Homo sapiens: one gene and its partner. The protein of the gene in region 1 interacts with the protein of each later gene in a pairwise test. Each region holds a gene or a part of one and is shown on either strand. Other genes may lie near its edges.

What was found.
Region 2: the proteins of ORC2 (region 1) and DBF4 interact in a two-hybrid assay, tested with the Homo sapiens proteins (one large-scale study listed by BioGRID).

The regions. Positions count from the first base shown.
Region 1 is NC_000002.12:200,925,661-200,929,160, reverse strand, and holds part of ORC2 (origin recognition complex subunit 2), read left to right. Parts: intron 1-2,260; coding exon 2,261-2,393; intron 2,394-3,228; coding exon 3,229-3,325; intron 3,326-3,500. UniProt on the Homo sapiens protein: Component of the origin recognition complex (ORC) that binds origins of replication. DNA-binding is ATP-dependent. The specific DNA sequences that define origins of replication have not been identified yet.
Region 2 is NC_000007.14:87,900,493-87,903,992, forward strand, and holds part of DBF4 (protein DBF4 homolog A), read left to right. Parts: intron 1-271; coding exon 272-386; intron 387-3,500. UniProt on the Homo sapiens protein: Regulatory subunit for CDC7 which activates its kinase activity thereby playing a central role in DNA replication and cell proliferation. Required for progression of S phase.

The DNA.
Region 1 (3,500 bases):
TGACCAACATAGTGAAATCCTGTCTCTACTAAAAATACAAAGTTAGCCGGGCTTAGTGGTGCATGCCTGTAATCCCAGCTACTTGGGAGGGTGAGGCAGGAGAATTGCTTGAACGCGGGAGGCAGTGAGCCAAAATCGCACCACTGCACTCCAGCCTGGGTGACAGAGCAGGACTCCATCTCAAAATAAATAAATAAATGCTCATTCTCCTTGGAATGAGTGAATTAATGGTTTAGTATGACTTAACAAGGCCTTTGTTACTTGACCTCTTTTCAATTTGTATCAGTTTCAACTCTGCTTCAGCCTATAAAAGTTTTTAGGACTTTTTTTTTGTTGTTTTTTTTTTTGAGACAGAGTCTTGCTCTGTTGCCCAGGCTGAAGTGCAGTGGTGCAATCTCGGCTCACTGCAAGCTCTGCCTCCCGTGTTCACGCCATTCTCCTGCCTCAGCCTCCTGAGTAGCTGGGACTACAGGTGCCTGCCACCACGCCCAGCTAATTTTTTTGTATTTTTAGTAGAGACAGGATTTCACCGTGTTAGCCAAGATGGTCTCGATCTCCTGACCTCGTGATCCGCCCGCCTCGGCCTCCCAAAGTGCTGGGATTACAGGCGTGAGCCACTGCGCCTGGCCTTTTTAGGGCTTTTATTGGCAATGGTCTCCCTTGCCTCCAGTCATCTGTCATCTGAAAAGTAATAGAAGCTACAGTGAAGCTACTGAACAAATTAGAACTAGAAGCTTGGTATACAGATAATAAAATTGTGCCTTTACCTTGTATGGGTTTGGAATAAATATTTATTTATTTATTTAAGATGGAATCTTACTCTGTTGCCCAGGCTGGAATGTAGTGATGTGATCTCAGCTCTCTGCAACCTCCACCTCCCAGGTTCAAGCAATTCTCCTGCCTCAGCCTCCCAAGTAGCTGGGATTACAGGCACCTGCCACCATGCCCAGCCAATTTTTGTATTTTTAGTAGAGACAGGATTTCACCATGTTGGCCAGGCTGGTCTCGAATTCCTGGCCTCATGTGATCCACCTGCCTCGACCTCCCAAAGTGCTGGGATTACAGGCGTGAGCCATCATGCCCGGCCAATAATAATTTTTAAAAAGAATACTTTTTTTTTTTAGGAAGGAAGAGGAAGAACTGGGATGGCTGAATCACTAAACATTGATTCCTGGCCTTGCACGGTGGCTCATGCCTGTAATCCCAGCACTTTGAGAGGCTAAGGCAGGCACATCACCTGAGGTCAAGAGTTCAAGACCAACATGGTGAAACCCCGTCTCTACTAAAAATATAAAAATTAGCTGGGCATGGTGGCGGGCGCCTGTAATCCAGCTGCTCAGGAGGCTGAGGCAGGAGAATCGCTTGAACCCGGGAGGCGGAGGTTGCAGTGAGCTATGATGGTGCCACTACACTCCAGCCTGGGCGACAGAGCGAAAAAAAAAATTATTATTAATTAGTTAATTTTTTTTTACAGACACTGTCTTGCTCTGTTGCCCTGGTTGGAGTGCAGTGGCGGGATCTCGGCTCACTGCAAGCTCCGCCTTCCGTGTTCACGCCATTCTCCTGCCTCAGCCTCCCAAGTAGCTGGGACTACAGGCACCCGCCACTGCACCCAGCTAATTTTTTTTTTTTTTGTATTTTTAGTAGAGATGGGGTTTCACTGTGGTCTCGATCTCCTGACCTCGTGATCCGCCCACCTCGGCCTCCCAAAGTGCTGGGATTACAGGCGTGAGCCACCGCACCTGACCTAATTTTTTTTTTAAATAAAAATATTTTTGGCTAGACATGGTGGCTCACACCTGTAGTCCCAGCAATTTTGGGGGCCAAGGTGGGTGGATTACTTGAGCCCAGTTGTTCAAGACCAGCCTGGGCAACATGGCAAAAGCTCATCTCTAGTAAAAATATAAAAATTAGCCAGGTATGGTGGTGCACAGCTGTAGCCCCAGCTTCTTGGGAGACTGACGCTGAAGAGTTGCTTGAACCTGGGAGGCTGAGGTTGCAGTGAGCCAAGAGTGCCACTGGACTCCAGTCTGGGTGACAGAGTGACTCTGTCTCAAAAAAAAAAAGATACATATATATACATACATGAAAAACTTTTTTGCGTTTGCCTTCCCAAAATTCGGGGATTACAGGCTTGAGCCAGTGCGCCTACCCCTTTCCTGTATTTTTTATAAACTGAATTTAAGGAAACTGGTTGATAATAAAATTGGCAATAAGAGGTATTGAAGTTTAATTTCATGAATACTGTCTTTCCTAACAGCCTTGGGTTCAACATTGTGCTTTATGGTTTGGGTTCTAAGAGAGATTTACTAGAAAGGTTTCGAACCACTATGCTGCAAGATTCCATTCACGTTGTCATCAATGGCTTCTTTCCTGGAATCAGTGTGAAATCAGTAAGTTTCAAAAATGTTAAAGGGAAAAACATTATATCCTCTGCCAATTCAAGCCCCCACATAAATGAGGATGGAGTATTAAAGAATTTTTGTTTTAGCCTTCACGGTAGTAGGATTGTATAGTGCTTAATACCATGTGTTTGGACTCAAGAATCTAGCTTTGAAACCATCTTCGAATGTCCTACATTGTAACTGACATGTATTAAAACTTAGGAAAATGTTAGCTTTGTTTACTATACTGAGTATCAGTGGTACTTCTGAAGGAGGGAATTATGGGGTCTTCAGTTTTGTTATAAACTATGAAAATGCTTTATTAGGCAAAAACTACATGCTGTGAAAATGCTTTAAAATGCAACAGGATGTGATGTGAAGACTGTAGTTTAACAATACATTTATCATAGATCATTTTTATTTCAAATGCTTAATATCTCTTCATCATTTGAACATGAAATCTTTTGGGTGCTGGATATTGAGCCATATAGTATTCCTTTTTTAAAGTGTCTGTAGTGTTTGTGTCCTGTTTCCTTTGATAGAACTGTAGTTTTCTAATGTTTCTCATGTTCTTGGGAGCTTTTTCATTTGTTTTTGCTGCCCTCTTATATTACCTATTACCTGTACATCTTTGCTATTCTTTTCTGTTTTCTTTTAGCCACAACTTAGGCAAAAAACAATGAATTAGATATACTCAAGTACCAGTAGAATTTTTAAAAGTTATTTTTTAAACTTTTGGGAAATCCAAATTCATTTTTAATTTATAAAAAAAGGTTTGATTTTCTAGTTGTATATGACAATAAATTGTAATTAATGTGGTACCTCTTCCACATTCATGATATAGGTCCTGAATTCTATAACAGAAGAAGTCCTCGATCATATGGGTACTTTCCGCAGTATACTGGATCAGCTAGACTGGATAGTAAACAAATTTAAAGAAGGTAACATGAAGTAGATGCTCGGTAGTTTTAGAGTAAAGTTAAGCATATACTTCTACTTATTCATGTATTTATATACATACAATATTATTATTATTATTTTTGAGACAGTCTCTCTGTTGCCCAGCCTGGAGTGCAGTGGTGCGATCATGGCTCACTGCAGCCTTGACCTTCTGGG
Region 2 (3,500 bases), on another chromosome or scaffold:
TCTGTTTAGATGGAGGTGGGGAGGGCCTTAAAATATTTGTGAATAATGAAAATGTGTAGTTTATCTTGAATGATCTGAAATATTCTCCAGAATATTCATTAAATCTTTAGTTTGCTTCTCAATATAGTATAAAGAAATATGATTAAAAGTACTTGCTGATACAAGTCTCTGCAAATTATGCAGATTGTGTGTGATAGTTTAGGACAATAAATTTTTAAAGTTATTCCTTAGGTTCAGCAGTTAATTCTTTACCATGTATGTCTGTCATCAGAATCCAAACAGATGGCGATAAGTATGGTGGAACCTCAATTCAACTCCAGTTGAAAGAGAAGAAGAAAAAAGGATATTGTGAATGTTGCTTGCAGAAATATGAAGATCTAGAAACTGTAAATGTGATTTTATATTTTGGGGGCTTGTTTCGAAAACTGTAATACTTGTGTTTTAAATTTTAGCTTGTTATTCTGATGCAGATATTTTACATTTTAAGAACTCAAGGGAGGAAATGAGTATTGAAAATGAATTTTTATTCAGCAAATACTGAGCGTCTACTACATACTGATCACTACTCTGGGCAAACAGCATTGAACAAAACAGACTTAATTTTTTACCGTTGTGAAGATTATATTCTGTAGGGTAGGGGTGGGATAGGGGTGGAGATAGGTAACCACAGGATAAAAGAAGAATAAAAATATAGAGAGAGAATATTAGATCAGTGCTATGAAAAAATAGAACATAGGAATGGGGATGTTGCTATTTAGCCTAGACAAGGAACACATAACTGATAAGGTGACATTTGAGTAGAGACCTGAGAGAAATGAAGTAATGAGACCTGGATATTGAGATAAGTAAGTGCAAAGGTCCCAATTTAAAATGATTGATGGGACCAAGGAATAGATATTGATAGTCCAGACTAAGTGGTAGTAGAAGTGCTGAAACATGGTCAGATTGTGGATTTGTTTTAAAGGTGGGACCAAGAGGATTTGCCAATGGATTGGATGTTGCAAGTGAGGGAAAATGGTAGTCAAGGGTTACTATAGTATTTTGAACCTTAGCAATTAAAAAGTGGGCTTATTATTTATAATGGGAAGAGAAGAGTTGAAAGAAGTAAAGACCATTGAGGTAGCAGAAAGAAATGGGAGAGTTGCAAAGGGTATATAGGATGAAAATGGGGGAACTATTATAGTTTGTAAACTGATGAGCAAGAGCTATGGATTCAGGCTGCCAGGTTTGAATCCTGGCTCCCTGGCTGTGTGAGCTTGGACAGTGTTTGGCACATAGTAAGTGCTTATTGTTAGCTGTTATTTGAATAATTTTTTACGTAATAGATAGGTTTGTTTTGGTGTTTGGTTCGGTTTTGGTAGAAGATGGTGGGAAAGTTAAGGGGAAAGAATAATACTGGAACATATCTGTCTTCAGACTCTGAATTGAAGTTTGTTTTATAAACCAAAATATATTAGTGTTTTGTGTCAGTTTTTTTGTTTTTATGTAATAAACAAGAAAACTATGATTAGTCTAAAATTGCTTTTAATCAGAAGCTAAAGTATCTCAGAAATATTTCCCCTTCCTGAAAATAATTTTGAAAATTAAAATTACAGATTGGTCCTGAAGTTTTACTTTGCTGGTGTAGCAACAAAATAATCTGGAATGGATGCTTAATTTGGTTCTCAGAAAATGTCGAGGCTAAAAAATGAAAAAATTGTTCAGTGGTTGCCACAAAGAAGAAAATTAGTGAAAGCAGATGTTGAGATTAGAGGTTGGGATTGAAATTTAAGGTCATGTTTTTACAGTTTTCATTTATATGTTTCTTAGTTGCTAAGAGTAAAGACATTTTTTTTTTGAATGTTAGGTTTCATAATGATTCAATTCCACTTGTATCAAGGGATTAATTAACACATATTTTTGAGTACTGGGGAGAAAGCAACAGATAAGGCGGACATCCCTACCCTTATGCACCTTATGGTCTGGCAGTGTAGATAGATAGAAAATATGTATTTGCAAGTGTGATGAGTTTCACAAAAGTAAAGTATGAAGTGCAATGGGAATAAATAATGAGGTTATTTAACCTAGAATGAGGGTCTCAAAAGGCCCAACTGAACACAGGTGACGCTTTAAATTAAGACTTATAAGGATGAGTAAGAAGAACTTAATGGAAATTAGAGGGGAACTAAATAAAAGTTGGAAATTTTTCCTTCCCAGAACATTAACAGAGTGAATCTGAGCTTACAAGATTTGATGCTTCCTTTTAAATTTTGATAATTCTTATTTTTATTACTGGGCATATATAATTTGTATATGGTAAAGTTTGCAAGTAATGAAGGAATACATGTATATTACAGGATGCTAGTTTTTAGAAATGTAATAAAATCATCAAAATGTAAAATTGCATGAAACTAGGGAAATAGAAATTAGGTTCTTTAATGGTCATCTAGAGGAAGCTTCTAAGTACAATTCCCTCCCTGATCAGCTGACAGACAAATAATAAAGTTAGGCTGGAGATTCCACCTATTCACAAGGAACTTTGTTTCCTGTGAATTTTATCTCACTTTGTTGTGAACTTGTTTACTTTTGGTTTTGACCACTCTTTTTGTTTTGTTTTTTGTTTTTATTTGAGATGGAGTCTCGCTCTGTCACCCAGGCTGGAGTGCAGTGGTGCAATCTCAGCTCACTGTAACCTCCATCTCCCGAGTTCCAGAGATTCTACTGCCTCAGCCTCTCTGGTAGTTGGGACTACAGGCATGCGCCACCACGCCTGGCTAATTGTACTTTTAGTAGAGACGGGATTTCACCGTGTTGGCCAGGAGGTCTCGAACTCCTGACCTCAGGTGATCCGCCCTCCTTGGCTCCCCAAAGTGCTAGGACTACAGGCGTAAGCCACTGCGCCCAGTGGTTTTGACTGCTCTTAAGAATGAGAATAACTTCTGTATACTCTGTTATGAGCACTGGGTAATTGAGATCATTTGTTTTGGTCATTCCCAAATGTGTTCTTCAATTACGAATCTTGGCTTTTTTAGTACTTCACAGCATTTAATGTGGTTCATGTGTTTAATCTACTTTCTGGATTCTTTTATGTTAACTTATATTTCATTCATTTATTATTCTATAAGCTCTGCCTTATTTAGTGATAATTGCATGAAGACAAAGTAATAGAGGGAAATGTGTTTTCCAAAATGTTACTGTTGTCTCTCTCTCTGTATCCCTTTTTTTTTTTTTTTTTTTTTTTGAGACGAAGTCTTGCTCTGTTGCCCAGGCTTGAGTACAGTGGTGCCATCTCTGCTCACTGCACCCTCCACCTCCTGGGTTCAAGTGATTCTTCTGCCTCAGCCTCCCAAGTATCTGGGACTACAGGCATGTGCCACCAGGCCCAGCCGATTTTTTGTATTTTTAGTAGAGATAGGGTTTCACCATGTTGGCCAAGCTGGTCTCAAACTCCTGACCTCGGGTGATCCGCCCACCTCGGCCTCCCAGAGTGCTGGGATTACAGGCATGAGCCACTGCGCCTG